Linked DNA regions of Homo sapiens: all the other regions are linked to region 4. Evidence: fine-mapped expression QTL. A gene starts in region 4. Each other region holds a variant in brackets. All regions are shown on one strand. Distances are from middle to middle.

The links. PIP is the estimated chance that this variant, and not a neighbour inherited with it, causes the effect. A credible set is the group of variants that fine-mapping cannot tell apart.
Region 1: its variant is the best candidate, but not a certain one, in a credible set for the expression of NRBF2 in subcutaneous fat (FUSION, PIP 0.78).
Region 2: its variant is the best candidate, but not a certain one, in a credible set for the expression of NRBF2 in whole blood (INTERVAL, PIP 0.62).
Region 3: its variant is the best candidate, but not a certain one, in a credible set for the expression of NRBF2 in monocytes (BLUEPRINT, PIP 0.64).

Annotation. Positions count from the first base shown.
Region 1 is chr10:63,385,638-63,393,174 of GRCh38, reverse strand. The region is part of intron 1 of JMJD1C (jumonji domain containing 1C); the gene reads left to right. Among named protein-coding and RNA genes, the nearest start is that of MIR1296, 16 kb to the right of the region's middle. The variant G/TG (reference allele first, on the strand shown) is at 3,864.
Region 2 is chr10:63,236,086-63,243,622 of GRCh38, reverse strand. All of the region lies in intron 3 of JMJD1C (jumonji domain containing 1C), which reads left to right. Among named protein-coding and RNA genes, the nearest start is that of NRBF2, 110 kb to the right of the region's middle. RefSeq lists an enhancer at 2,361-2,897. The variant A/G (reference allele first, on the strand shown) is at 2,890.
Region 3 is chr10:63,550,470-63,558,006 of GRCh38, reverse strand. All of the region lies in intron 1 of REEP3 (receptor accessory protein 3), which reads right to left. Among named protein-coding and RNA genes, the nearest start is that of REEP3, 33 kb to the right of the region's middle. The variant G/C (reference allele first, on the strand shown) is at 3,493.
Region 4 is chr10:63,130,027-63,137,563 of GRCh38, reverse strand. NRBF2 (nuclear receptor binding factor 2) reads right to left here and starts at 4,236. Exons shown (of 4, transcript NM_030759.5): 1 at 4,064-4,236. The coding sequence starts at 4,093. RefSeq lists silencers at 3,690-3,959, 4,170-4,419.

The DNA of each region.
Region 1 (7,537 bases), 260 kb before region 4:
CACCTCAGTCTCCTGATTAGCTGGGACTACAGTTGTCCACCACCACATCCGGCTAATTTTTTGTATTTTTTGTAGAGACGGGGTTTCACCATGTTGCCCAGGCTGGCCTCAAACTCCTGGGCGCAGGTGATCTCCCTAACTTGGCCTCTGGAAGTGCTTGGATTACAGGCATGGGCCGCTGCTCCTGGACTCATTTTTTTCATATACGGTGTTGGCTGTTTGTATGTTGTCTTTTGAGAAATGTCTGTTTATGTCCTTTGCTCACGTGTGTGTGTGTGTGTGTGTGTGTGTGTGTGTGTGTGTGTGTTTATGTACTTTTTTGCCCACCTTTTTTTTTTTTTTTTTTTTTTGGAGACGAAGTCTCGCTCTGTCACCAGGCTAGAGGGCAGTGGCGTGATCTCGGCTCACTGCAACCTCTGCCTCCCGTGTTCAAGCAGTTCTCTTGCTTCAGCCTCCCGAGTAGCTGGGATTACAGGTGCATGCCACCACGCCCAGCTAATTTTTGTATTTTTAGTAGAGATGGGGTTTCACCGTGTTGGCCAGAATGGTCTTGATTTCTTGACCTCATGATCCACCCACCTCGGCCTCCTAAAGTTCTGGGATTACAGGCATGAGCCACCATGCCCGGCCTTTTGCCCACTTTTTAATGGGATTTTTTTTTAAACTGTTGAGTTTCTCATATATTCTGAATTATTAGTCACTTGTGCGATGAGTAGCTTGCAAATACTTTCTTCCATTCAACAGGTTGTCTCTTCATTCTGTTGATTGTTTCCTTTGCCGTGCAGAACTGTGCAGTTTAATATAGTCGCATTTATCATTATTTATATCGCCTCTGGAGTTTCAGGTCTTAGCCATAAAATCTTTGCATAAATCTGTGTCCTAAAGTGTTCTCCCTTTGTTTTCTTCTAGTAGTTTTATAGTTTGGGTCTTATGTTTTAAGTTTTTAATCCATCCTGAGTTGAATTTTGTATACGGTGAGAGATAGGGGTCCAGTTTCATTTCATGTGGATATCCAGTTTTTCACATACCAATTATCAAAATGGTTGTTTTTTCCATAATGTGTTGTGTGTTCTTGGAACCTTAGTGAAAAATCTGTTGGCTGTGAGACGGTGTTTGCAAAATTGTAACTGAGGAAATTGCGACAGTGAAAGAAATCAGTGGTTTTAAATACATGTTACACTGTTAGCAACTTTTACTTTTGGTTTAAAGCCTGGTTAGTACATGATTTTAATTTAACCAATACCATCCTATTTTGGCCACTGTAGGCTTGTAATATATTTTAAAGTCGGGTAGTGTAGTGTGATTCCTTCAGTTTTGTTCTTTTTGCTCAGGATTGCTTTGGCTCCTTAGGCTCTTTTTTACTTCCATAGGAATTTTAGGATTGTTTTCTCTATTTCTGTGAAAAATGATGTTGGTATTTTGATAAGGATTGCATTGAATCTTTGTATCGCTTCAGACAATATGATCATTTTAATGATGTTAATTCTTCTTTTGAGCATGGGATGTCTTTCTATTTGTGTCTTCAGTTTCATTCATCTGTTTTGTAGTTTTCATTGTAGGCATCTTTTCCCTTTTGGGGTACATTTATTCATGGATGTTTTTTCTTTAGGTATTATAAATGGAATTGTCTTTTTTGTTGTTGTTGTTGTTGTTGTTGTTGTTGTTGAGACGGAGTCTCACTCTGTCGCCCAGACTGGAGTGCAGTGGCGCAATCATGGCTCACTGCAAGCTCTGCCTCCCGAGTTCACACCATTCTCCTGCCTCAGCCTCCCAAGTGGCTGGGACTACAGGCACCCGCCACCATGCCCAGCTAATTTTTTGTATTTTTAGTAGAGACGGGGTTTCACCGTGTTAGCCAGGATGGTTTCCATCTCCTGACCTCATGATCCACCCGCCTCGGCCTCCCAAAGTGCTGGGATTACAGGCATCAGCCACCACGCCTGGCCACCTTCTTGATATGTTTCTCAGCTATTGCATTATTGGTATATAGAAATGCTACTGATTTTTGCTTGTTGATTTTTTTATCTTGCAACTTTACTGAATTGATCAGTTCTATGAGGTTTTTGGTGGGATCTTTAGGTTTTCCTAGATACACAGTCACATTATTCTCAAAGAGGGACACATTGACTTCTTCTTTCCCAATTTGGATGCCTTTATTTCCTTATTTTGCCTGATTGCTCTGGCTAGGACTTGCAGTATTATGTTGGATAGGAGTGAAGAGAGTGGCGGCTTTTTTGTTTTGTTCCAGTTCTTAAAGGGAAGGTTGTCAGTTTTCCCCATTCAATATTATGCTAGCTGTTGTTTGTCACAAGTGGCCTTTATTATGTTGAGGTATTTTTCATCTGTGCTTAGAATGTTGAGAGTTTTTATTATGAAGGGATGTTGAATTTTATCAAATACTTCTTCTGTGCCTATTAAGATGATTCATGACTGTCGATTTACATATGTTGAACCATCCTTGCATCCCTGGGAAAATTTTCACTTGATCTTGATGTTTTTGATGTGCTGTTGAATTTGGTTTTCTATTTTGATAAGAATTTTTGTATGTATGTTCATCAGAGATATTGGCCTGTAGTTTTATTTTGTTGTTGTTGTTGTTGTAGCATTCTTGTCTGGTTTTGGTATTAGGGTAATATAATGCTGGCCTCTTAGAATAAATTAGGAAGAATTCCCTCCTCTTCAGTTTTTTGGACTAGTTTGAGGAGAAGTGGTGTTAGTTGTTTCAAAGTTTGATAGAGTTCTGCAGTGGGGCCATCTGATCCTGAACTCTTCTTTTTTGGGAGATTTTTTACTACTAATTTTACCTCATTACTTGTTATTAGTTTGTTTAGATTTTCTATTTCTTCCTGATTCAATCTTGGTAGTTGTATGTGTCCAGGAATTTATCCATTTCTTCAAGGTTTTCCAGTTTGTTTTTGTATAGTTGTTCATAATGGTCTCTGATGATCTTTTGTATTTCTGTGGTATCAGTTGTAATTTCTCTTTTTTCGTTTCTGATTTTGTTTATTTGGGTATCCTTTTTTGTTGTTTATTCTCAACAAGCAGTTAATTGATTTTGTTTATCTCTTCAAAAAACAGTTTTTCATTTCATTGATCCTTTGTATTTTGTTAGTATCTGTTGCATTTGTTTCTTCTTGATCTTAATTGTTTCTTTCCTTCTGTTAATTTTGGGCTTGCCGTGTTCTATTCTGTTTTCATGGGATGTATGGTTTGACACTGTATTTGAAATTCTGTTACTTTTTGGTTATAGGTATTAATTATGAACTTCCATCTTAGCACTACTTTATTAAATATTCTCTAGATTTTGGTATGTTTTGAATTGATTTTTATTTATTGTAAAGCTACATTTGATTTCATCCTTAGTTTCTTTCTTGACCTAGTGGTCATTTAGGAGCATGTTGTTCACTTTCCATGTATTCGTACACTTCCCAAAGTTCCTCTTTGTTGATTTCTAGTTTTATTTCATTGTGGTCTGAGGGTTTGATACAATTCTAATTTTTAAAAATTTGTTGAGACTCTATTTGTGTCCAAAAATATGGTCTATCTGGGAGAATCTTCCATTTGCTGGTGAGAAGAATATGTGTTCTTTAGCTGTGGGATGAAATGTTCTATAAATGTTTGTTAGGTCCATTTGGTCTAATGTGCAGTTTAAATCTAATGTTTCTTTGCTAATTTTCTGTCTGTTAGCATGCAGTGAGTTTTTGGGAAAAAAAAAAAAGGAAAAAAAAAAGAAAAACAAAATTCTGTCTAGATGACTAGATGATCTCCCTAATGCTAAGAGTGGGTTGTTGGAAACCCCAATTATTATTGTACTCTTTCTCTCCATTTAGATCTTTTTTCTTTTTCTTTTTTTTTTTTTTTTT[G/TG]AGACAGGGTCTCACTTTGTCACCCAGGCTGGACTGTATTGGCACGATCTCAGCTCACTGTAACCTCTGCCTTCCAGGTTCAAGCGGTTCTCCTGCCTCAGCCTCCTGAGTAGCTGGGATTACAGGCATGTCACCAATTTTTGTATTTTTAGTAGAGATAGGGTTTCACCATGTTGGCCAGGCTTGTCTTGAACTCCTGACCTCAGGTGATCTGCCCACCTTGGCCTCCCAAAGTGCTGGGATTACAGGTGTAAGCCAGCACACCTGGTCTCCATTGAGGTCTAATAATATTTGCTTTATACATCTGGGTCCTCTGCTGTTTGGTGCATATATGTTTAGAATTGTTATATTTTCTTGATGAATCAATCTCTTTTATCGTTATATAATTACCTTGTCTCCTTTTACTGCTTTTGACTGTTTAATTGTAGCTACTTCTCCCCACTTTTGGTTTCTATTTGCATGGAATGTCTTTTGTATTCCTTTACTTTCAGTTTATATGTACCTTTATAGGGGAGATGAGTTTCTTTTGGGCAGCATATAGTTGTGCCATTATTTTAAATCATTTCAACTAGTCTGACACTTTAATCTGTTTTATTATTAACATGTGAGGGCTTATTCCTGTTATTCTATTACTTAATTTCTGGTTGTTTTGTGTATTCATTGTTCCTTTCTCTCTTCTTGTTAACATTGTGGTTTGGTGGTTTTCTGTAGTGCTATCGTTTGAGGCTTTTCTCTTCCTTGATTGTATTTGCTCTACCACTGGGGTTTATATTCTGTGTGTTTTCATGATGATAGATACCATTCTTTATTTTCCCAGCATCAGACTCCTTTAAGCATTTCTTGTAGATTTGGTCTAGTGATGATGAATTTTCTTGCTTTTACTTGTTTAGGAAAGACTTTATTTCCCCATCATTTATGAAGGATAACATTGTTTGGTATAGTATATTCGGCTTTTTTTTTTTTCTCCTTCAGCTTTTTGAACCTATTATCCCATTGTCTTCTGCCCTGTAAGGATTGTGCAGAGAAACTGCCGTTAGTCTGATTGGGGTTCATTAATAAGTGACTAGATAGTTATGTCTTGCTTTTTAAAGAATTCTCTGTCTTTGACTTAGTGACATTTTTACTATAAGGTGCTCTGGAAAAGATATTTTTGAGTTATATACCTTTGGGGATCTTTGTGCTTTATCTGAGTATCTAAACTTTTTGCCAGCCTTGCGAAGTTTTCATCTATTATTTTGTTAAACAGACTTTCTAGCCCTTCAAGTTTTCTTGTTGCCTCCTCAAACACAAAAAATTTGAAAATTTGGTAGCTTTATGATGTCCTATATGTGATGAGGATTTGCTCGTTCTTTAAGGAAATTTAAATTTTCTTTTTTCGGCCAGGCGCAGTGGCTCACGCCTGTAATCCCAGCACTTTGGGAGGCTGAGACAGGCAGATCACAAGGTCAGGAGATCAAGACCATCCTGGCTAACACGGTGAAACCCCGTCTCTACTAAAAATACAAAAAATTAGCCGGGCATGGTGGTGGGCACCTGTAGTCCCAGCTACTCCGGAGGCTGAGGCAGGAGAATGGCAGGAACCCAGGAGGTGGAGCTGGCAGTGAGCTGAGATCACGCCACTGCACTGTAGCCTGGGCGACAGAGCGAGACTCCGTCTCAAAAAAAAAAAAAAAAAAAAAAAATTTTTTTTTTCTTTTTTCTTCTGACTGGGTTATTTCAAAAGGTCTGTCAAGTTCTGAGATTTTTTTCTTCTATTTGATCTAGTCTGTTGAAGGTTTGAATGTATTTTGTTTGATTCGATGAATACATCAGGTCCCGAATTTGTTTCATCCTTTTTTATGCTGTCTCTTTGGTGAATTTTTCATTCATATCCTGAATTGTTTTTCTTTTCTTTGTATTATTTTCTTTGTGTCTCAGTGTAACAGAATACTTTAGTATCAATATTTTCAATTCCAAGATTTTATAAATTTCTTTTTGATTGGAATCTGTTGTTGGAGAATTACTGTGTTCCTTTGAATTTATTATCATGGATTCACATTTTCTTGCTTCTTCTTGTTTCTTTTATTTCTACATTGATATCTATGCATCAGGTATTGACAGTCACTTCTTCCAATAGTTTGAATTTCCTTTCATAGGGGAGGAATTTTTCCTAGAGATGTATCTGTGGTGTTGGTTGGGTAGGGCACTTTTGCTTTGATTCTGGATATATGCAGTGGTGTAGACTCCATGTGATTTTTTTAGGCATTAAACAGGGTCAGTGTTGTCTGTGATTTCTTCTGTGGTTTAGTGGGTGGTTCTTAATGGAAGCTGTGGTGACATTTTATTAGGGAATGGGTTGCCACATGGGCCACTTTGGGCTCCTTTGGTGTTAGTCAGAAGATCATGTCTGTTTTGGGGCTTCAGTGTGGCGTATGCTGCCACCAGAGTTAGTGGGTCTGTGCAGGTCGATTCTTGGGCTTCCAGGCAGCTTGCTTGGGTGCCAGGAATGGCAGTAGTGGGGTGAATGAGTGGGCAGGTTACTGGGCCCTGGGCGGTAGGCGTGGCATAGTTGATGTCAGTAGCAGTGGCAAGACAACCCCCTGGAACCCAAGCATTTCACTTTGGTGTTGGCAGAGGTTGTGACAGGCTGACTAAATCAGTCTCCAGGCCTGCTGCAGGTGCCCACATGTGGGTGGGTGTCAGCTTTGGTGATAGTGGTCAGTTGAATGGACCCTGGCCCCTGGAAAAAGTGCTCAGGTACCAATGGTGGTAGACTAAGCAAGGTAATCTCCAGACCCTGAGCAATGTGCTTACATACTGGAGGGGGCTGAGCTTGGATGAGCAGACCCGTCCTCAGGTTCCCTGATTGTTTGTGCAGGCACTGGCTGTGGTCAACAGGGGTGGCATGATCCCCAGACTACCAGTGGAATGGTCAGGTGAGGGCTCCAGCCATCATGTTGCAGCCCTGCTACTGGGGAAGGTGGGTTGCTTTCTGTTGGAGCAGCTGTAGGCAGGCAACTGGTAACTGGGCAGGTGCACTTTGCTAGGGTGTTGACCCTGGCAGCAGTAGCCCACAGTACAGATTCTGGGGTCTGTGAAGTTTGTATTTAGGGCATATGAAAATGCCTAGTTACCCCACTGCTAGGGAGGGTGGGGTCCGGCTAGTACCTTGTGTTTTCCTTCAGGGCTGTTGATTTGGGAGATAACTTACTCTTTTTGGGGTGTGTGTGTGTGTGTGTCTGTGTATGTGTGTATGTTTCACATTTTTTAGGGTTAGCCTGCATCCAAAGAGAGTTTATTCTTTACAATAGTGAATCTTTTCATTTGTGAACACAGTGTATCTATTTAAGACTTAAGTTTCCATGTTTGGTGTATTGTAGTTTTCACCGTATATGCTCTGAACATTTTTGTTATATTTCTTCTTCATTTTTTTCTACTTTTTATTGTCTTAAAATACTGTTCAAATCAGGATCTGGAGTATCCTGGGTTATACAAACCTATATATAAGTAAATATACATTTTTTATCGTAGTTTGCTTTATTGCACTTAGCAGATGCTGAATGTTTTTAAATAAATTTGAGGTTTTATGATAGGTGAAATGACATGCACCTGTAATCCCAGTTACTCGGGAGGTTGAGGTGAGAGGATTGCTTGAGGCCAGGAGTTTGAGACCAGCCTGAACAATATAGCAAGAC
Region 2 (7,537 bases), 110 kb before region 4:
TTCTGCCTTTGTACCAAGAACTTCGAGAACTGATTTATTGCTAATATTATTTAAAATCAGAAGTTGCTTACAAATTAGTGAAAAAAAATTTTTTTTGAGACAGAATTTTGCTCTTCTTGCCCATGCTGGAGTGCAATGGCGTGATCTCGGCTCAGCGCAACTTCCGCTTCCCAGGTTCAAGCGATTCTTCTGCCTCAGCCTCCCAAGTAGCTGGGATTACAGGCATGCACCACCATGCCTGGCTAATTTTGTATTTTTGGTAGAGATGGGGCTTCTCCATGTTGGTCAGGCTGGTCCCGAGCTCCCGACCTCAGGTGATACTCCCACCTCAGCCTCCCAAAGTGCTAGGATTACAGGCGTGAGCCACCACGCCTGGCCAAATTAATCAAATTTTAAGATATAGAGAGAACCAGAATCAGCTCACAACAATTGTAGAATAAGTTACTAAATTCTATTGAGATTTTGTTGAAAGATACCTATCTAGCCATATATATATTTATATATATATATATATATATAATTTATGTTAGTGTATTTTGGCTCTTTGAGAGAAGTCAAAGTTTACATCTGTTAAAAGTCTCAGAAATTGGCAATAGAACAACAGTCCATCTTGGACTCCATTCCCAATTTTGTTGCTTACTATCTGAAATGCTATGAAAGGCATATAACCACTTAACCACTTAAATTTTTATTTTTATCTATAAAATAGGTATGATATCATTGCCATTGTCTATGAGGTAATATATATGAAAACACTTTGTACTCTAAATTTTTTTTAATAAGGAGAATATATATGGTCAGAGTTAAGAAAATAAATAGGTCTGTTTGGGTAAATCTCAGTTTCTGTTCTGTGTGCTTTCAAGAGACTCATTAGAAAAGTAATCTGTTTTTGTTTTTGAGACAGAGTCTCGCTCTGTTGCCCAGGCTGGAGTGCAGTGGCGTGGTCTCGCTTCACTGCAACCTCCGCGTCCTGGGTTCAAGTGATTCTCCTGCCTCAGCCTTTCAAGTTGCTGGGACTGCAGGCATGTGCCACCATGCCCAGCTAATTTTTGTATTTTTAGAAGAGACAGGGTTTGTTTCACCATGTTGGCCAGGCTGGTGTCAGACTCCTGACCTCAGATGATCCACCCACCTTGGCCTCCCAAAGTGCTGGGATTACAGGTATGAGCCACTACGCCCGGCCTGCTTTTTTCATGTATCCTAAACCTGCTGTGTCCGTTATTGGTAGCTACTAGTCATATGTGGCTATTTAAACGTAAATTAAATAAAACTAAATTTTAAAAAAGTTCTTCAGTCGTGCAGGTCACATTTCAAGTGCCCAGATAATCGTATGTGGGACAGTGCATGTATATACCATTTATGCTGTAGAAAATTCTTCTCAACCACTTAGCCTCTAAATGCTGAATACTGCACAGAAAATGACATCCATGTATTTTGGTACCATTGTATTGTCTCCAGTATCACCCTAGCCCTTAGTATATCATTTGGCATTCTTTTCGCATGCCCCTGTGAACTTCTGTTTCCTAAAGTAATTATTCCAAATTATCACTACTTTACTCAGCTTCCTCCTTTTCTCTTAATAGATGATCTTTCTCCTGTTGCACAAAGGAAATTGAGGTTATAAGCAGGAACCCCGTTAGCTTCCTGTTCTCATATCTATTTTTGTACCTCTCCTTACCTGCTTTCCTCTTGTCTTAGAGATGTGTCTGTTTTAACTTCTACTACTTCAGTTTTACAAATATGTATTAGATACCTGCTACATCTCAGGTACTACTTTAGGTATTTAGGGTACAGCCATGAACAAAACAAAACAAAAATTTGTTGCCTCCTATAACTTACCTTCTTGTGGGAAAAGACAGATGGCAAACAAAATAACTGTTTAGCATATTAGAAGACAGTAGTACTATGGAGAAAAGTAAAGCCTGGAAAGTGACAGGAAGTGTCAGTTGTAACAGAAAATGGATAGGCCCTAAAGCAAGAAGATTGAAAAAATAACATACTATGTGAAAATTAGTAGAAAATGATGTAGAAAGGCTATAAGGGTAAATTAAATTGGGCTTTTTAGGCTATTATAAAGACTTTATTTTTTATTCTGATTAAGCTTGGAGTGAAAGCCTTTGAAGCATTTTGAGCAGAAAAGTAATATGATAAAACTTTTTCCCTTATATAAATAATTTTAAACCTATGTAGTTATAGAATAGTAAAATGTGCTTCCATGTAGCATGCAGCTTTAACAATTATCGATTTGTGGCCAGTATTGTTTCACTTTACTGCTCGTCTTCTGTCATAGATATTCCCCTATGTATGATAGTTTGACTTAGGACTTTTTGACTTCACAAGGGTGAAAAAGGAGCATTCAGTATGTTCCTGAGCTTTCAACTTAATATTTTCAGTTTAGGATGGGTTTATCTGGATGTAACCCCTTCATAAGTCGAGCATCCGTATTTCAAAGCAGATCCCACACACTGTATTATTTTGCCCCTAAATTTCTAAGTGTGTGTGTATGTGCATAAATTAAAACAGTCTAGCTCTATAGTCGAGTCTCATTCACAGTACTTATGTTTTATAATACCGCCACTTCTCAGCAACACCAGGAATGATAAGAGTATCATAGGCTTACTCATTTGCTTTGTCTTACATTATGTAACCACTAGACTTAGAATAACAATACTAAGGTTACCACCAATGGTATAATTGCTGAAAACAGTGTATTTTTTTGTTCCAGTTCTTTTTATCCTTAGGAGATATCCCGCTGGTCATATACTCAATTTATTGTGTTTTGTAGTCGTTTGGAATTGTTCCTCTCTCTGCCTTATGTTTTAAAAAGCTAATATCTTTTGTATTCTAGAACCTGTCTTCACAGATACTTTTCTAAGTTTACCAAATCTT[A/G]AGCCTATTTTTCTTTCATTGCTTTTCTTTTCATTATATAAACTCAACCCTCTAATATAAAAAACTAAAAGTTATCACACCCAGTCTGGTTATGGCCTTATCTTACTCCTTTCCTTCATAGCTGGACTTCTTATAATGTGAACCGTTATATCTATATTTTCTTGCTTCCCAATAATATCTTCAGTTATTGCAGCCTGGTTTCTTCCTCCACTTCACAAAACTGATGTTGCTAAGATGGCTAATCATCTCTTAGTTACTGCATTTAATATTCAAGTGTGCATCACTGTCCTACTGAACCTTTGCATTTAACACTGGATCACTGTCCTTTTGGAAATTCTTTGTTCCTGTTGCTACTCTGATACTTCTCTTCAGGTTTTCCTATTTTTTTAATCAGTCTTTGCTGTATGTTTGTTCTCTCTGTAGAAGATTTAGTGTTTATGTGATTTTTTTTTGTAGTGCTCCTTATTTTCTGTAGTGTTCCTTTTTGGTTTTTTCCATTTCACTACTCACCCTAAGCCGTGTCACATTTCCACTGTCTTTTAAAACCCTGTCTTCTGAATCCAAAACTCCAGACCTCTCTGCTCTACCATTATTTAATAACTGTTTACTAAGCATCTTCTCTGTGCCAGGCAGTATTCATACAAAATTTCCTGCCCCCATGGAGTTAAAATTCTGGAGAGGCCAGGTAGATAATAAGTGTAATAAGTAACTTATATAGTGTGATATACAATGTAATAAATGCGATGACAAAATGAAAATGTAAAGCAGTGTAAGATCAATAAGGATTGGGGAGGGGAGAAGCAGATATTTAATAGAATGTTCAGAGTAGATATCATTGAAAAGGTGAAACCCATGTCTTCTGCTGTCTATTTACTGTATTCACATTCAACCATCAGACCTTGATTTCGTTTTTCTTCCTGATCATTCTGTATCCCAGCTAATGAGATCAATCACATCTATGCCAGTTTGTCACTTAAATCAACATGTAGGGCCAGGAGCGGTGGCTCACGCCTATAATCCCAGCACTTAGGAGGCCAAGGTGGGTGGATCACCTGAGGTCAAGAGTTTGAGACCATCCTGGCCAACATGGCAAAACCCCCGTTTCTACTAAAAATACAAAAATTAGCCGTGTGTGGTGGCACATGCCTGTAGTCCCAGCTACTCAGGAGGCTGAGGCAGGAGAATTGCTTGAACCCAGGAAACGGAGGTTGCAGTGAGCCAAGATTGTGCCACAGCACTCCAGCCTGGGTGACAGAGCGAGACGCAAGTCTCAAAAAAAAAATCAACATGTAGGAATGTTTTAGGTCTCTCTCTTGCCCTTACATATTAGTCTCCCAGAATTACTAATTCTGCCTCTTTAACTTTGCTTAATCTGTCCCTTCTCCTCTATCGTAAGGCTCCCATCCTTACCCGCCTAGACTATTACAGAACACTCCAAACTACAGTCTTTCAGTTTTCTTCCTCACCTACTCTGCTGTCCTTAATTCAATCCATACCAGTGTACTTGTCCCTATATTCCATATTGTTTCACCCATCTATTCTTGCGTATGAATTTTCCTCTGTCTGAAAGACCTTCTTTTCTGATCTCTTATTATCTGGCAGATGCCCTTGCAGTTTTGAAGTTCCAACTCAAAAACCTTGGTTTCATACTTTTCTTGAGTCTCAACTCAAATATTTCCTTCTCTGTAAATCCTTTCCTGACACACCTAACTAGGTCACCCGCCAACCCATTTTGTCTCACCTTTGTATCCTAGAGGATACAAAGATACTTTAATCTGTATCGTATTTGTGTGTCTGTCTCAATTCCACTGGATTGTAAGATCCTTGAGGTCAGGAACTTTGTCTTAGATATATTGCCAGTGCCTTGGCACAGTAATTGATACCAGGTGTTCAAAATCTTGTTGAATGAAATATATTCCTAATAAATTTTAGTAATGAGAGCCTCCTAGTCCCACACTTAGACTATTTCAAACATAATTCCAACAAGCTGTCAAATCTAGTTTCCCTTACCATAGCATATGAGAAGCCAACACTTTAAAAAGTGGTGATGGTAGATTGGCAGCTTGACAGCATGAGGTTATGGAAGAACTAAAAAACAGTTACAACTAAAATTTTGTCTTTCTGGAACAATTTGTTATAGAGGTTACAGTTTACATCGATTATAACTGCATCATAATATAAAGATAACCATGAGTATTAATTTAAAGACCTTATGTTCAGTATGTTATTTCATGAAGGAACTCTAAATATTTTTATTCAAAATTAATAGAATTTCAGCAAATTATGTTATATAAACTCCTTTTTTAAAGATAAACTATAATAAGCATTTAATATGCTTCATTCAGTTTATGTTCTCTTCCCTTTTTTAAATTAAATTTTCTAAATACGTTAAACTTTCTAGGAGCAGTAAAAAAAAAATGCTGAAAGGCATCGTAAAGAGTACTATGGATAATACCTTCCTTAAAAATTCTAGGTGGCTAATGTGCTTTTCTATTATGATACATTGGAATTTTAGTTATAGCTTCCTTCCTTTTTTTCTTTTTTTTTTTTTTTGAGATGGAGTCTCACACTGTCACCCAGGCTGGAGTGCAGTGGCACAATCTTGGCTTGCTGCAACCTCCACCTCCCAGGTTCAAGCGATTCTCATGCCTCAGCCTCCCAAGTAGCTGGGATTACAGGCACCTGCCTCCATACCCGGCTTTTTTTTTTTTTTTTTTTTTTTTTTTTAGTAGAGACGGGGTTTCACTGTGTTGGCCAGGCTGGTCTCTAAGTTTTGACCTTGTGATCTGCTCACCTTGGTCTCCCAAAGTGCTAGGATTACAGGCATGAGCCACTGTGCCTGGCCGCCTTTTTTTCTTTTTGTGTAATTTAACACATTTCTTATGTACAGGTTGAGTATCCCTAATCCAAAAATCTAAAATCTGAAAAACCCCAGAATCTGAAACACTCAAAGGAAGTGCTCATTGGAGCATTTTGGATTTCAGATTTTCTAATTATGTGTGCTCAACTACTAAGCGTAATGCAAATGTTACAGAATTTTTAAAAATCTGAAATCTGAAACACTTCTGACTCCAAGCATTTTGGATACAACCTGTATTTGTAATTGCTCTACAAAGACCTCAGTGAAGGAAGTGGATGGACTCAAATAGGTGTCATAAAAGACTAAGTCACTGGGCAAGTCTAGCAAGTCTTGCTGATCATTCCAATTTGTACTGGATTGTATTCGTTCTTTCTGAGAAAATAGAAGTATGGTACTATAGTTCATTTATAGATTCATCATTTCCATAGCACTATATGCTAAAAGTGAAAATCAGCCCAAAAAACTTCGATGTGGTATTAATTTGGAAGTTACATTCATTGCACTGTATATTAAAAAAAAATTTTTAGTGAGTGTTTGGCGAGGCACAGTGGCTCACGCCTGTAATCCCAGCTCTTTGGGAGGCCAAGGCGGGCAGATCACCGGAGGTCAGGAGTTTGAGGCCAGCCTGGGCAACATGGTGAAACCCTGTCTCTACTAAAAATACAGAAATTAGCTGGGCATGGTGGCAGGCACCTGTAATCCCAGCTACTCGGGAGGCTGAGGCAGGAGAATCACTTGAACCTGGGAAGCGGAGGTTGCAGTGGGCCGAGATTGCGCCATTGCACTCCAGCCTGGGGGACAAGAGCAAGATGTCTTAAAAAAACAAAACAAAACAAAACAAAAACAGTGTTTGTTCTGTATGAATCAATCATTGACACGATGTATATGTATACTATTTCAATATTAGTTGTTTTTAAATATATATTTAGAGACAGGGTCTCTCTGTTTCCCAGGCTGGTCTTGAACACCTGGCCTCAAATGATCTTCCTGCCTCAGCTTCTCAAAGTGCTGGTATTACAGGCATGAGCCACCATGCCCAGCCTCAGTATTAGTTTGTGCACAGGAATTTTCAGTAGAATACTTTATACAAGTATATAATTTTACTTCTTTTTTGTTGTTGACCTCCCTCCCCAGCTTCCCAGGAATTTTTTACTTCTTAAAGCTTGGGTTGTGCTGGAGGAATATTTTCAGTTACTACTTTGGAAAATATTAAACAGTTCCCAGGCCTTCCTGAGTTTGTTTCAGTTTAAGTTTGAGGAAGCTGCAGTTAGTAAATTGTGGTTGGCAGATGCTGTAAGCAGGTGACTCAGTAGGTTAAACTCATGATGACTCAACTGTGTAAAAGTCATGCCAATAAATAGCTTGAAAGAAAAACTGCCTTCCAGACTTTTGAACTGCCATAAAAAGTTCAAAACTATTATTAAAAGTATCACAAAGAATATTAACATGTGGCTTTAGAAGAAAACACATTTTTCTTCAAGTGGTTTTATAATGTTTTCTTAATTTATCTGATTTTTTTACTCTGGTTATTCTGAGAGGAGCGGACCTTATACCAATGACACTTAGCAAATTGTAGTTAAAATGCAGGAATATTACAGGTCTGGATCAAGTTTATTCAAGGGAATATTGTTATGAAAGATAGGTTTCAGTTGGGTGATCAACCAAGAAACCCTATTAGTAGTTATTTTTAATTAATAAAAAAGCTAGTTAATAGCTGTTAATGTAATATTGCTGTAACCGAATAGATAAAGCAAGATACACAGTTGTTTGTTGTGATTTGATGTAATA
Region 3 (7,537 bases), 420 kb before region 4:
ATATGAGAGATTTACTCTGAAATTCAGTACAATGCAATGCTTAGCTTTCTTTGAGAAATTGATGCCTTCCTTCCATCTGAAAAGAATTATATTATTCCTTGCTTCCCTCCATGGGTTGCCAGGAAACTCAGAATCAAATCTGTTGTTCTACTATATCAACACTTGTGGTCCTCAGAACTGGCATATTTATATTTGTACTCACCAAATTTTTATTTTCTTTGATTGCTATTTTCTAGTCTCAATTCTGTTATTTTTCTTTATAATTTAACATATCAATTTGGAAAAAAAATTCTCAAATCATTTGAAAGAACATAACAGAGCATAAACAGTTAAAATGTAGTAGTCAGTGTAATTAAGCACAAAATGCAGCTCTAAGGTGCCAGGCAAACCAAGAAAAGACTGGTCCCCAACCCTGCAACACGTCAAAATCACCTGGAGAGCTTCTTCTTTGTTGTTGATAAATTTAACGTAGGTAATTAATTTAAACAATAGAATAAGGAAGAAAACGCTAAGCAAAAACCTCCCATTTTGAAACAGTGGCATTTCCCAAAGATAAGCATGGAAACAGTTTATTTGGTATCCAAACAGTAAGATAAGTTATACATATAACATTTATTAAAGACAAAGGGAAATAGTCAAAAACTCATTATTTTCTAATTATATTTATTCCTAATTATTTTACATTTTACTATGCTCTTCAAGTTATATACTTCTATTCTATCTGTATGGTGGAAATACTAGAAATACTAAGTGTGCTGTGTGCATTTCTTTCCAGCTCCACATTCAGTGAGGTCACGCTGCGAGCTTGAACTAGGCTATTGTAGGCAGTACTTTACATCACAGAAATTAGCAAATTGTATGAATCAGTCCTCTTTCCCTCAGTTGTCAAGCATTACCGGCACACCACTGCCTACATGGGTTTTAGCCAAGGGAAACTATAGTATGTTTTTATTGGGAGGACAATGGAACACTATACATAGGGAGAATTCACAGAATTTAGTGAAATCAAAAAGGCAGCCCATTATAACAACCAAGTTTCCTGGCTTGACCCTGGGATCAAAAAACAAGCAAAGGCCGGGCGCGGTGGCTCACGCCTGTAATCCCAGCACTTTGGGAGGCCGAGGCGGGCGGATCACGAGGTCAGGAGATCGAGACCATCCCGGCTAAAACGGTGAAACCCCGTCTCTACTAAAAATACAAAAAATTAGCCGGGCGTAGTGGCGGGCGCCTGTAGTCCCAGCTACTTGGGAGGCTGAGGCAGGAGAATGGCGTGAACCCGGGAGGCGGAGCTTGCAGTGAGCCGAGATCCCGCCACTGCACTCCAGCCTGGGCGACAGAGCGAGACTCCGTCTCAAAAAAAAAAAAAAAAAAACAAAACAACAAAAAAAAAAACAAGCAAACAGAAAACAAAACAAAACAAAACAAAACAAAACAAAAACCCCACCAATTTTAAAAATGATTTCATGTAAAATTAAGAGAGAGGGCAAATTTTTCTGTCATTTATAATAGTTCACTCAAATTCTGTTTGAGTATTAGTTCTCTAATATTAATATAGACTGTAATGAATTTAAAAAATAGAATCATAGGCCAGGCATGGTGGCTCACGCCTGTAATCCCAGCACTTTGGGAGGCCAAGGTGGGCGGATCATTTGAGGTCAGGAGTTCGAGACCAGCCTGACCAACATGGTGAAACCCTGTCTCTACTAAAGATACAAAAAAAAAAATTAGTCGGGCATGGTGGCCCGCGCCTGTAATCCCAGCTACTTGGGAGGCTGAGGCAGGAGAATCGCTTAAACCTGGGAAGCGGAGGTTGCAGTGAGCTCTGTTGCAGTGGGTGACAGAGCGACTCTGTCTCAAATAAATAAATAAATAATAAAATAAAATCAGAATCTTAATCTCAATGAGGAATCCCAGAAATAGTTTATAAGAATGGTTTTCTGGTTTTTTTTCAAGGTAGCATTTTTCCCCCAGAGGAAATGTTTCTTAGGAACTTCATAAATAAAGAGATAAATGCAGTTAACAGGTTCCTAAGACAACTTATTTTCACTGATTGTAGAATCCTCTGATGAATTTTAAACCCTTGACAATTATTTGAAAAGTGCCCCTTACAAATGGTTCAGTAGCTCCCAAACCTGTCTATGTAAAATAATCAACTGGGAAGGAGGATTTTTGGCAGTAGGGCTCAAGGATCTGAATTTCTAAATTCTGCATCTTCAACAAACCAATGTGTGACAATATTATGCTTAGTTTGGTGTTGGATTAAAACTGATTATGATTAAGCAATATGTTGTCAGTACAGTACGTTGGTTAACTGGATTTTTTAAAGTAATGTGAAAGTCATTATAGGTTATCTGGACTTTTGCCACGCTCTATCCTTCACTTAGATGCAAAAATAAATGTAAGACATCATGATAAAAGAAGAGAGAGTTACAAAGAGTAGACTAAATGGTTACAAGTAGTGCAAAGTCTACTGATAACCAAGGTACCTGTGTATATTCTCCCTGTGATAAACTTCCTACATGAGTTTTTCTGCCATGGCAGCCATCAGGTAGCAAAGGTCATGCATGATCACTGCCAAAATAATATGTAATTTTTGTCTTACACAAATTTTAAGAAAAATACATTTGTTGCTAAAAATCTCTGTCAGTAGAGAATTCCCATTTAGTAAAACAATGGTTAAGTGACTAAACCTTAAAGAAAAATATGAAAATTCCATACAAGGAGAAAGAGTCAAACCCATGGGGAAAAAAACAACAACAGCCCCAAATCCTGAATTCTATAACCAAAGGTCCCCATGTTTAAAACCATGAAGGAGAGAAAAAGACAGTGGAAATTCCTTTGAAAGACTTTATGTTTTTCATAATACTCATCAAAAGCTATGAAACTTGGAATTTTCATGTTAGAGCTAAACTTAGCTAAATTGGAGCTACATTTCTAATTTTACTCCAGAGCCTATAATTTCTATTCTAAAAGGAAAGGTAAAGATGAAACTAGAGGGGAAAAAAAATCAAGCTACAGCAACTCAGACTCAAACTTCCTCATCTCCTCACTCTCTCCCCACTAGCCACGCCCCACTACAACCACAAGGGCCTACCATGTGGTAGACCCCAACAAAAAAATGTTTAGAAGAATGCTGAACTTGGAACAGAGTACACTGTAGAATCAAGGGCTACAAACCCTTGAAGCACTCCAGTAACTCAGCATCCTGTGGGTAGAGTACCACAGAATGGCTCATAGGGCTGAAAGAAGACAATGGTCCCTACAATCTACAGCACTCCACAGTTTTCCAGCTGCAATTTTTCCATCCTGATTGTCATTACACACAGAAAATTCATAGGCGAGGTAGGTGCTATTGTTCTAGTTCTACAGATGATAAAAGTAAGGCTTAGAGAGATTAATGATCTTATGAATTAAGCACATAGCAAGTGTTAAAGCCAAAACATAGAACTTCTAATTTGAAGACCTGTGCTCTTTCCTCTATACCAAAAAACT[G/C]TCCCCCAAAGAAAACCTGTATTTCATACAATGTATAGCTCATAGCAGATCCCCAATATTAACAGTTCGATGATGTCAATATTCCGAAGTTCTCTAAACAATTGTAATTCCACAGGCATACTACTGTCATATAAAAAAAATATCTGAGACCCATTTTCTGATTGTATACTAAGTCTACATAAAGGAATATGCATGTCTTTAATCAACAATCATCACACCCTTTAATTCCTATCAAATGATTACTCATGATCTGACCAATTCCTGATTCCTGAGTAACTCTTGACTCAGAGGAGTTGTTTACTTTATTTAGCCCCTTAAGCACAGGATGTGTAAAATTTGAACTTACCATTAGGCCCACTGACTTAAAGATAACGTGAAAGTTCAATTGCAATCTAAGGTTTTTTTTTTTTTTTGAGACGGAGTCTTGCTCTGTCACCCAGGCTGGAGGGCAGTGGTGCGATCTCCACTCACTGCAAGCTCTGCCTCCCGGGTTCACGCCATTCTCCTGCCTCAGCCTCCTGAGTAGCTGGGACTACAGGCGCCTGCCACCACGCCCAGCTAATTTTTTGTATTTTTAGTAGAGACGTGGTTTTACCGTGTTAGCCAGGATGGTCTCGATCTCCTGACCTTGTGATCCAACCGCCTCGGCCTCCCAAAGTGCTGGGATTACAAATAGGCGTGAGCCACCGCCCCCGGCCAATCTAAGTTTTAAAAAGCTTCTGGTGAAGAAAAAACATGTACAAACAATTGTGAAAACATTGCAAAAAATTTCCTCTCCTGAAATACATCCGTCTCTACAAATTAAAGGAGGATGAGTAAGGAAAGCCATAAACACAAATTCTACCCTATTCTGTGCAATTCATTCAGTATCACATGACCACAAAGTGAACTTCTCTAAACTGAACTCAGATATAAAATTCTGGCCAAGCCCTCCCATAGAACATTCATACCTAATGTACAGTCTAAGCTACAGTCACCTACAGGCACTTCACCAATGAGCATGAAAACGCTTCACCAGGTTAATTTAATATTTTGCTTTCAAACAATCTTTTAAGTCTCCATTAAACAATAACAGGTATCACTGACGGCATACTACATGTCAAGGCACTGTGTTTTTCTATCACTAGGGATACATCAGTGAACTTGCTATCGCTTTTTAATGAAAATTAAATTTGTGATGATTTGGAAACCAAAACATTCTATTTTCATATTTCTTAAACCACTTCCTTCATTCCATTTATTCAAATCACTCTAATACCTCCAGCATCTCCAACACAGTAATTTTTTCCCATGCCACTCCCTGTAGCTAGAACAATCTCGCTCTTCATGTTGTGAGCTCTCCCTCCTCTCAGAGCCACACTGCCTGTTTACTGTCTTTCATTAACGGGGCTTTAAAAAAAGGTTTGGTCTTCTTATTTTGTAAAGTAAGTGAACAATAACAGAAGTTACATTACAGAAGTAACAACCAGAACATAAAAATTAAGTCATTGTAAAAGCATTTGTGAGTATTCTCCATGTTCTCTTGAGATGGTCAACTGACAAAGACAATGTCTAAGTACTTTCTTACTACAAGAAAATCAGAGAGGTGGGAACTTTATTTCTATCTGGGACAACCTGACAGAAAAAGAAACAAACATGTGCCACAAGAACTACACTACCACCTAATTTAATTCTGACATCAGTAATTACAGCACAAAACCAGCAGACTGGCTGCTTGGCACTAGCAAGCCCCCTGTGTCTAATGAAACGTCACTCAAAGGCAGTCTGGGATGATCCTACTTGAGAAATGGTATAATCTCCACCAATCCTAACTTTACTACTTTTTTCCTCCCTAAAGAAACATATACAAGTGATTAAATGAAGGGCAGTCCATCTATCAACTGAAAAGAAGGGGTGTTAAAATTCCTCATCATGAGGGCACTGTTCTGCTAGGGAGAAAAAAGAGAAATGACAATAAGATGCAATGCTATTTGATTGGATTCTGTATTAAAAACAATAACCAGGTAGCTACATAAGGCACTACTTGGGCAACTTGGGTATTTTGGATATGAACTACTTTAGGTATTAATAGTTCATCAATGTTATATTTCTTTCTTTTTTTTTTGAGACGGAGTCTTGCTCTGTGGTCCAGGCTGGAGTGCAGGGGCAAAATCTCGGCTCACTGCAGGCTCCGCCTCCTGAATTCATGCCATTCTCCTGCTTCAGCCTCCCGAGTAGCTGGAACTACAGGTATGTGCCACCACACCCAGCTAATTTTTTTTTTTTTGTATTTTTAGTAAAGACAGGGTTTCACCGTGTTAGCCAGGATGGTCTTGATCTCCTGACCTCGTGATCCACCTGCCTCGGCCTCCCAAAGTGCTGGGATTACAGGCGTGAGCCACTGTGCCCGGCCCCAGTGCTGTATTTCTTAAGTGATATTTGTCTTGTGACTATATAAGATAATGCCTTATTTAGGAGATATAATAATTAAGACAGAAATGCCATAATGTTGGCCACTTACTCTTTTAAAATAAAATTTTAATTTTAGAACAGTTTTGCAGAAAAAGTGTGAAGATAGTACAGATAGTTCCCATAAACTCCACAACTGATTTCTCTTATTCTTAAAATTTTACATTGGTATGACACATTTGCCACAATTAAGAAACTAATAATAATATATCGTTATTAATTGAAGTCCATACTTTATTCAAATTTTCCTGGTTTTTCCTAAGGTCTCATTTCTTTTCCAGGATCCCATCTGGGATCCCATCCATTTACCATATCATGTTTACTCATCATGTTTTCCCAAGCTCCTCACTAAGTTTCTCAAGCCTGAGTTTTGATAGCCTTGATAGTTTTGAGGAGTGCTACTTAAGTATTTTTTAGAATGTCCCTCAATTAGGGACATTTGTCTGAAATTTTTCTCAAGATTAGACTCAGGTCATGGGTTTTTGGGAGTAATATCACAAAGATGATGTGGCTGAGGTAGTATATGTTAGGTAAAGTTACTGGCGCCCCTCCCCAGATTTACATACCACGTTTTTTGGCAGAAAGTCACTATGTACAGCCTTAAGGAGTGGGGAGTGATGCTCCATTTCCTTGAGGGCAGAGTATCTACATAAATTATATGGATTCTTCTCCAGGAGAGATTTACCTATTCTCCTGTATTCATTTATTTATATGAGTATGGACTCATGATATTTATTTTATGCTTTGGATGGTATAATCCAATACTACTTTATTTTGCTGCTTAAATTGTTCCAGATCTCCTTGGGTCACTGGGATCTTTCTCAATGTCCTGTGTCCCTACGACATACCTACATTGTTTTTGTTTGAGCACTTTCTTTACTTTCTGGCACTACAAGATGCTGCAGGCTCATCATGTATATTTCCTGCCCATTCCTAGAATCAACATGTCTCTAAGGAGCCTTTATTCCTTTTATTGGAAAATGGTATTTGAAACCAAGATCTGGACACTAGCTATTCTTGTACTACTGGAGTGTTGTTGATTCTAGTGTTAGTTTTATATGTTAATTGTCTGTTTTATATGTTGTTATTTTTATAGATTATTGTTACCTTTTGATTTTATGAATTTTGCTGAAGTGTATATATTGTATATCTGTGAACCCTTGTATTAAATAACTTTGCATTAAGACTTTCCTACATTGAAAGCAAGCAAATACCTGTATCTCTATATATTTTTAGTTCATTTATAGCTTATTTATTTTCTTTTGATGGAGAGGATAGTAGATACTACCTGAGGTCCTTAGCCTTGACATCCTTATCCTTCCTTAACCTGGAGCTCTAGGTTTGTGGCTTATTGGGCCCAAGGAGGAATGCCAACTCTTCCTCTGTTGGGGATTCCATCCTTACCAAATCTCTGCCATCCTTAACAATACTACCCTGTGAATGCTACCTTACCAGAAGTGCCAACTCCTAGACTCTGGATATGGGATTTTTAGTACTTGGGGCTTTTCAATTTAACTTATCCCCACCCCTACCTAAACTCAGAAATTTAGAGACTTCTAAGAAAATTAACCTTAAGAACTGAGCTGTAAATAAGAAT
Region 4 (7,537 bases):
CTCAGCACTCTTAAGGGCTAAACACATAGAAAACGATTGTGGCCAGGCAGTCACATGGACCCTGCCCTTTGCAGCAGAGGTAAGCAAAACATGAGCAACAGCCACATATAAATTAAGATCTGACATCACTTTCCAAATCAGCAGCAAACAAACCAAAGAACTAGAAATTATCTCACAAGAGTTTTGACATTTGTTACCAGTAGTCACACTGACAAAATGTGTACGGAAAGAAATATCTAAATATACACTAATTTTATAAGTTATAATTTTTCCATATTTAAAACTGACAGGCTGGGCACAGTGGCACATGCCTGTAATCCCAACACTTTGGGAGGCTGAGACAGGAAGATTGCTTGAGGCCAGGAGTTCAAGACCAGCTTGGGCAACACAGCAAGACCCCATCTCCACAAAAAGTTTTTGAAAAAATTAGCTGGGCATGGTGGTGCAAACCTGTAGTCCCAGCTATTGTGGAGGGCTCAGGCAGGAGGATCCCTTGAGTGTGGGCAACAGAGTAAGACCCTGTCTCTTAAAGAAAAATTGACCAAAAAACCCTAATGAAACAAAGTTATTCAGAGTGCAAAGACTAGCTATTTTTTTCTTCAGTGGAAGTACAATTTTTCTTTTGACAAACTTCAATAACCAGATAATTAGAATCCATTACCTCTGTGGTACATATTAAAATGAATATTTCAAACTAGTCTCTTCCAGATCTTAAAAATTCACTGTGAGGAATTTCTAAGGCCCTTACTGCCAAACCTAACATAAAAGAATCAATACTGGAGCAGAGGTAATAAATGCTAACACAGAATCTACAGTTCAATATAGATGAGAACCATACTGAAATGAACATGATGAGTACAATATGGCAGCATTGCTAGAAAGAGGTCTTGATATCAAAATAACTCGTGATTCATAATGTATTTAAGTTACTGACCTAAGTAATTACCTAATTCTCTCAGCTTAGGCTTATTTATCTGTAAAACTGGAAAACACACCTTACTAAGTTCCGAGGATGCTCTGAGGACACATGATTACAAATCCATGTACTGTGATAAGTCCTTATACAATGAATTTGGACTACACTACGACGTCATTTGACAAAGCTTATTGCATTAGTAACTCTCTGAGTATAGAAAAAGAAAAAGCTTGTATAATACTAGTGGAATTTTCAAAGACATTCAAATTATAGCATTGAGAACTCTCATCTTGAGTCAACTAGATACTAAGTTAGGTGTTCACTGACATAAAAGAATGTCAGAATTTTCATAGCCGGGCAGGGTGGTGCATGCCTGTAATCCCAGCTACTCAGGAGGCTGAGGCAGAGAACTGCTTGAACCCGGGAGGTGGAGGCTGCAGTGAGCCCAGATCGCACCACTGCACTCTAGCCTGGGTGACAAAGCGAGACTCCGTCTCAAAAAAGAAAAAAAAAAAAAAAAAAAGTCTGAATTTTCAAAAACCTCATCTTATAAAACTGTGAGTGACAATTCTGAGTGCCAGAGGCCTGTAATTGGTACTCATTCAAGTAACCGTCAACGTCTGTTCTACTGTTACCTTCCAATAAACAACTATGCTGGAAATTAGATCTTTCAAGACTCAAATGGTTTAAGAATTCAAGGTGTCCGCCGGGCACGCTGGCTCACGCCTGTAATCCCAGCACTTTGGGAGGCCAGGCGGGGGGATCACGAGGTCAGGAGATCGAGACCATCCTGGCCAACATGGTGAAACCCCGTCTCTACTAAAAATACAAAAATTAGCTGGGCGTGGCGGCGCGTGCCTGAAATCCCAGCTACTCAGAAGGCTGAGGCAGAAGAATCGCTTAAACCAGGGAGTCGGAGGTTGCAGTGAGCTGAGATCGCGCCACTGCACTCTAGTCTGGTGACAGAGAGAGACTCCATCTCAAAAAAAAAAAAAAAAAAGAATTCAAGATGCCAAATTTCTGATACTTGCCTACATAAATTTTATGGCTGAAATACGGAGTTACGCTAGCCTGCTTAAAAAGACTCTGTCGAAACTCGCTCCGTTTTATGGAGGAGAATTTAAATGGTATTGCCACCATTTAACTAATTTTTCCTGAACTGGTAGTGATTCTGCAGTTCTATCTGCAACTGTCACCCAGTTCTAGTCTCCTTTTAAAACATCACACATTCGTGGGGCAGTTGGCGGGGGTTATTCTGCAGCCAAATAATGTGAAGCTAACTAGAACTGAACCAATGCTCATTTGGCAAGGACACCTGAACTCTGAAGCACTTCGTAAACAGCTGATTATTTCTAGTAATACTCCTGTGAAGTTTCAGTATTGAGCCATCCACTGTATTTCATTGCCAACTATATGTCGCCTTAAAAACAAGAAAAGTGCAAGACAGTTCCCTGGTTATTTGAGTCAGAGTCTCGCTCTGTCGCCCAGGTTGGAGTGCAGTGGCACAATCTCGGCCCACTGCAACCTCCACCTCCTGGGCTCAAGCGATCCTGCCACCTCAGCCTCCCGAGTAGCTGGGACCACAGGCGGGCGCCACCACGCCAGGCTATTTTTGTATTTTTTGTAGAGACCGGGTTTCGCCATGTTGCCCAGGCTGGTCTCGAACTTCTAAGCTCAAGTGATTCGCCCGCCTCGGCCTCCCAAAGTGCTGGGATTACAGGCGTGAGCCCCGGCGCCTGGCCAGTTCCCTGGTTAAAAAAAACTCGCAAATGTAGTCCAATTCGTCTTAAGTGTAAATACCTACCACCTGGGGCAAGACCCAACTTAAAAGGGAGGGGCGCCTCACAACAGTTAACCTGGCACCAGTGATTTGGTCCGAGAATCTTAGGCTTTTAAAGCTCAAGTCCAAACCTTTATTCTACAAATAGATTTTAAATTAAGGGCTTATGGTCTGGTTATAATCGCTAACTCTTACACTGTACTATGTACTTAGTACAGTTCTAAGTGCTTTACACCTATTTACTCCTTTAATCCTCCCAAAAAACCTGAAGCCGAGTGAAGCCAAGTAGTTTGCCCAAGGTAACACAGATATCAAGTGACGAGGTTAGAATTCAAATCCAAGCAGCATAGCTTCAAAACCTAGAGTCTTAAACCACCTGACTCTACTGCTCTTCTAGGACTCAGAGTTCTAATGTGAGAAAAGAATCCTCTATAGAGCTTTCTTTCAATTCCACCATCGCAAATGAATTGCAAACCTGTGACTCAAAAGTTCTTCCTGTGTGCAACCTTAAGTAATCTGACTTTTACATCCAAAATGGGTAACCTCTCTGGAAAACTAAAAGATGCAATGGCCAGTCTGAAAAGAACTCATGCTTCCCGTTGTTAGTGGGGTTCTGTTGTGTTGTTTTTTAATTGCAACACCTGAAACGCCTTAAAACACAAGTAAACAGGCTATCAGCCATTTTCCTGAGAACAGCAAACACCTATTACACTTTCATGATGCCTAAATTGATGAATCTGAGCTAAATACAGGAACGGCTGTCTTTTTCCCAGCTGTCTCTAATATATTTGGAAGACGGTAGACTCAGTTTATGCATGTGAATGTATGTGAGAAATGAGGGGGAAGTGGAGGGTGAGGAGGGGGAAGTGGAGGGTGAGGAGGGGGAAGTGAAGGGTGAGGAGGGGGAAGTGGAGGGTGAGGAGGCTATTCACTCCTCCACCTCTCCAAAGCGGGGCGACTCAGACTCAGACCCTGCTGCTAGAACTTAAAACCAGTATCACACCATTTCTGCCTTGGCCGGCTTCAGTGCCTCTCCAGGCTGTAGGGAGGTGGCTACGTGGCGCTAAGAGGACTTCCCCCAGCCAGAGAGGAGGTGGCAGCCCCAGGTGGTGGCATCCCCTCGCCCGGGGCCCCGCGACAGGGGGCGCCAGGACTTCCCGGGGATCCCCCAGGAGGGCAAAGTCTGAAGTGGCTAGCCTGGAGCCGCAGTTGGGCCAGGGCCTGCCTAGCAGCCCCTCACAGCCTCTGCGACCACTCCTGCCAAACCAACCTCCCAGCCTAAAGGGTTAGCCGACGCGCCGGGGACGGGGCCGGGCTCCTGAGGCAAAGGCACCCAAGACGAACGCTATATTCTGTGGGACACTCACCAGGTTGAGGGGTCCTTCCATTACTTCCATAGACCCCGGGGTAAGCGGCGGCCTTAGGAAGGGGAGTAGTGGCGCCGGGGAACATGGAGGGGACTGCAAGGGAGCTCGACGCAGCCGCGGAGACTGCGGCCCCTCTCTGCGCCCCAAGAGCCAGCGATAGGCGCTGAAGGAGCAACAACCTCACCACTTCCTCCTCCGGCGCCGCGCCGCGGGCCCGCCCCCTGCGCCACCGCCGAGGCCACGCACGGCGCCATGACGTCACACGCGCAAAAGGCTGGTTCAAGGTGGGAATGAGGACAGGCAGTGGGTGGGGCCCAGGGAAGGCGGGGCACCAGCTGATGTACGCTTGCGAGCGGTCAATCTTTCCTCTCGCGAGAAGCGTTAGTTTAGGTTCTTAAAGTCTACACTGAAGTCACGTGAGGAGGTACAGCCTTGCTGTTGAAGACTTGAAATGGCTGTCTTCTGCAATTAGCTTCTCACGTTTCCTTTTAGACTGACTTTTCCTTAAATCTGCTAATCGTTACACCGTTACTTGTGGTCCTGTCCACACCTTTATCATTGTACATGATTCATTTTTTCAAAAGGCCGATTTGAGCAATTCTAGACCATGCACTGGACTAACCCCCCTAGAGGTCAGCACACTCGAATGATTTAGGGCTCTGCCCTCAAGTTGCTCACAAACTGATAGGGAAACAATTTTGGTCTAGCCAAATATAATACTGCATTCATTTAACAATTATGTGCCAAACAAAAGCTAGGTTCGTTCTGTCATGGAATTCACTGACAAATAGTTGTGATTTATGCTGGAAAGGGAACACATAGGGAGCTGTGATAGAGTAACCAAGGTGGAGTTGGGTGGTAAAGGAAAGCCTTTCATGGGGGGCGTGATTTTTTTTGAGAAAGTGTCTTGCTGACGCAATCTCCACTCACTGCAACCTCCCTCTGCCCGCCCCCTGCCCCAGGCGATCCTCACACCTCAGTCTCTTAAGTAGCTAGGAACTACAAGTGCTCAGGCCAGGTTAATTTTTGTATTTTTTGTAGAGATGGGGTTTCGCCATGTTGCCTATGCTGATCTTGAACTGCTGAGCTCAAGTGAGCTCAATGATCCGCCCTCCTGGACCTCACAAACTGATGGGATTATAGGCATGAGCTACCGCACCTGGCTAAGGGCGTAATCTTTAAGATTAAACCTTAAAATGCCAGTTAAACAAAGACCCTTCTCGACAAAGGAAATGTCTTATGCCTCAACTCTAAAGGCGGGGAGGTCGGGTGGCGGGAGCTGCAGCATTTCAGAGAGATGCAAAAGAAGATACCAGAGAGATAGGAAACTTCCAAAACATAGGTGTCCTTGCAGTGCACAATGAAACATTTGAATTTTACTCAAAGTGCATTGGGAAATAAGTAAAGGATATTAAGCTAGAGAATAATCTGCTTTAATTTACAGTTTTGAAAAGATTAATTTCCCTGTAATGTGAAGAATAGATTGTGGAAGGCCTAAGGAAAAAGAACCAAGACAAGCTAGTTGATTGACTAATTATGGGCGCTCAGACTGGAATGGAAGTAGGGAAGATTGGGTCATGCATCCACTCATTACATAGTTATCATGTTTCTACCATGTGCCGGAAACCTTGGAAGAGAAGTAGATATATTCAAGATATATTTTTGGGCATCAGGTTGAGAGGAGTTAGTGATGGAATGGCAGTAAAGCATACAGAAAATGGAAGAATCAAATCTCGTATTTAAACAACCAAGTGGCCTAGCACACTGGCTCACCCCTGTAATCCCAGCTCTTTGGGAGGTCAAGGAGAGCAGATCACTTGAGGCCAGGAGTTTGAGACTGGTCTGGCCAACGTGGTGAAACTTCATCTCTACTAAAAGCACTAAAACGTAGCCAAGTGTGGTGGCGCGTGCCTGTAATCCCAGCTACTGGGGAGACTGAGGCAGGAGAATTGCTTGAACCTGGAAGGCAGAGGTTGCAGTGAGCTGAGACCAATCACACCACTGCATTCCAGCCTGGGTGACACAGAGAGACTCTGTCTCTAAAAATAAAAAAATAAAAAAGTAAACAACCAAGTGGACAAGATAGTGAGAGACAGGACTAGCTGGATTTCCTAGGCCAACTAAGAATTCCTAAACCTAGCTGGGGAAGGTGACCACACCCACATTTAAACACAGGGCTTGTAACTCAGTTCACACCCGACTAATCAGGTAGTAAAGAGGGCTCACTAAAATACAAATTAGGCTAGAAGCAGAAGGTAAAGAAATAGTCAAATCATATATCGCCTGAGAGCACAGGGGGAGGGACAATGATCAGGATATAAACCCAGGCATTCGAGCAGGGAGTGGCAACCCCCTTTGGGTCCCCTCCCATTGTATGGGAGCTCTGTTTTCACTCTATTAAATCTTGCAACTGCACACTCTTCTGGTCCATGTTTGTTACAGCTTGAGCTGAGCTTTCACTCACCGTCCACCACCGCTGTTTGCTGCCATCACAGACCCGCCGCTGACTTCCACCCCTCTGGATCCATCAGGGTGTCCACTGTGCTCCTGATCCAGCGAGGCGCCCATTGCTGCTCCCAATCGGGCTAGAGGCTCGCCATTGTTCCTGCAAGGCTAAGTGCCCAGGGTTTGTCCTAATCGAGCTGAACACTAGTTGCTGGGTTCCACGGTTCTCTTCTGTGACCCACGGCTTCTAATAGAGCTATAACACTCACTGCATGGCCCAAGGTTCCATTCCTTGGAATCCGTGAGGCCAAGAACCCCAGGTCAGAGAACAAAAGGCTTGCCGCCATCTTGGAAGTGGCCTGCCACCATCTTGGGAGCTCTAAGAACAAAGACCCCCTGGTAACAATAGGAAGGAGCTAATTTGTATGGAAAATGAAAAGTTCTATCTTGGGCACTGTATTAATTTCCTATGACTGCTGTAAGAAGTTACTACCCATTTAGTGGATTAAAACAACAGAAATTTGGAGGCTAGCAGTTCTGGAGGCTAGAAGACCAAAATAATTTTTTTTTTTTTTTGAGACGGAGTCTCGCTCTTTCACCCAGGCTGGAGTGCAGTGGCTCGATCTTGGCTCACTGCAGGCTCCACCCCCGGGGTTCACGCCATTCTCCTGCCTCAGCCTCCCACATAGCTGGGACTACAGGCGCCTGCCACCTCGCCTGGCTAATTTTTTGTATTTTTAGTAGAGACGGGGTTTCACCGTGTTAGCCAGGATGGTCTCGATCTCCTGACCTCGTGAATCACCCTCCTCGGCCTCCCAAAGTGCTGTGATTACAGGCGTGAGCCACCATGCCCGGCCAAGACCAAAATAATTTCATAGCGCCAAAACAAAGGTATACAGCAAGGCCTTGCCCCCTTCTTTTCCAGCCTCTGGAGCTACATTCTTTGCATTCCTTTGACTCACAGCCCCTTCTTCCATCTTCAAAGCCAGCAGCACTGCATCTTCAAAGCTCTTGCTGCTTTTGTCATGT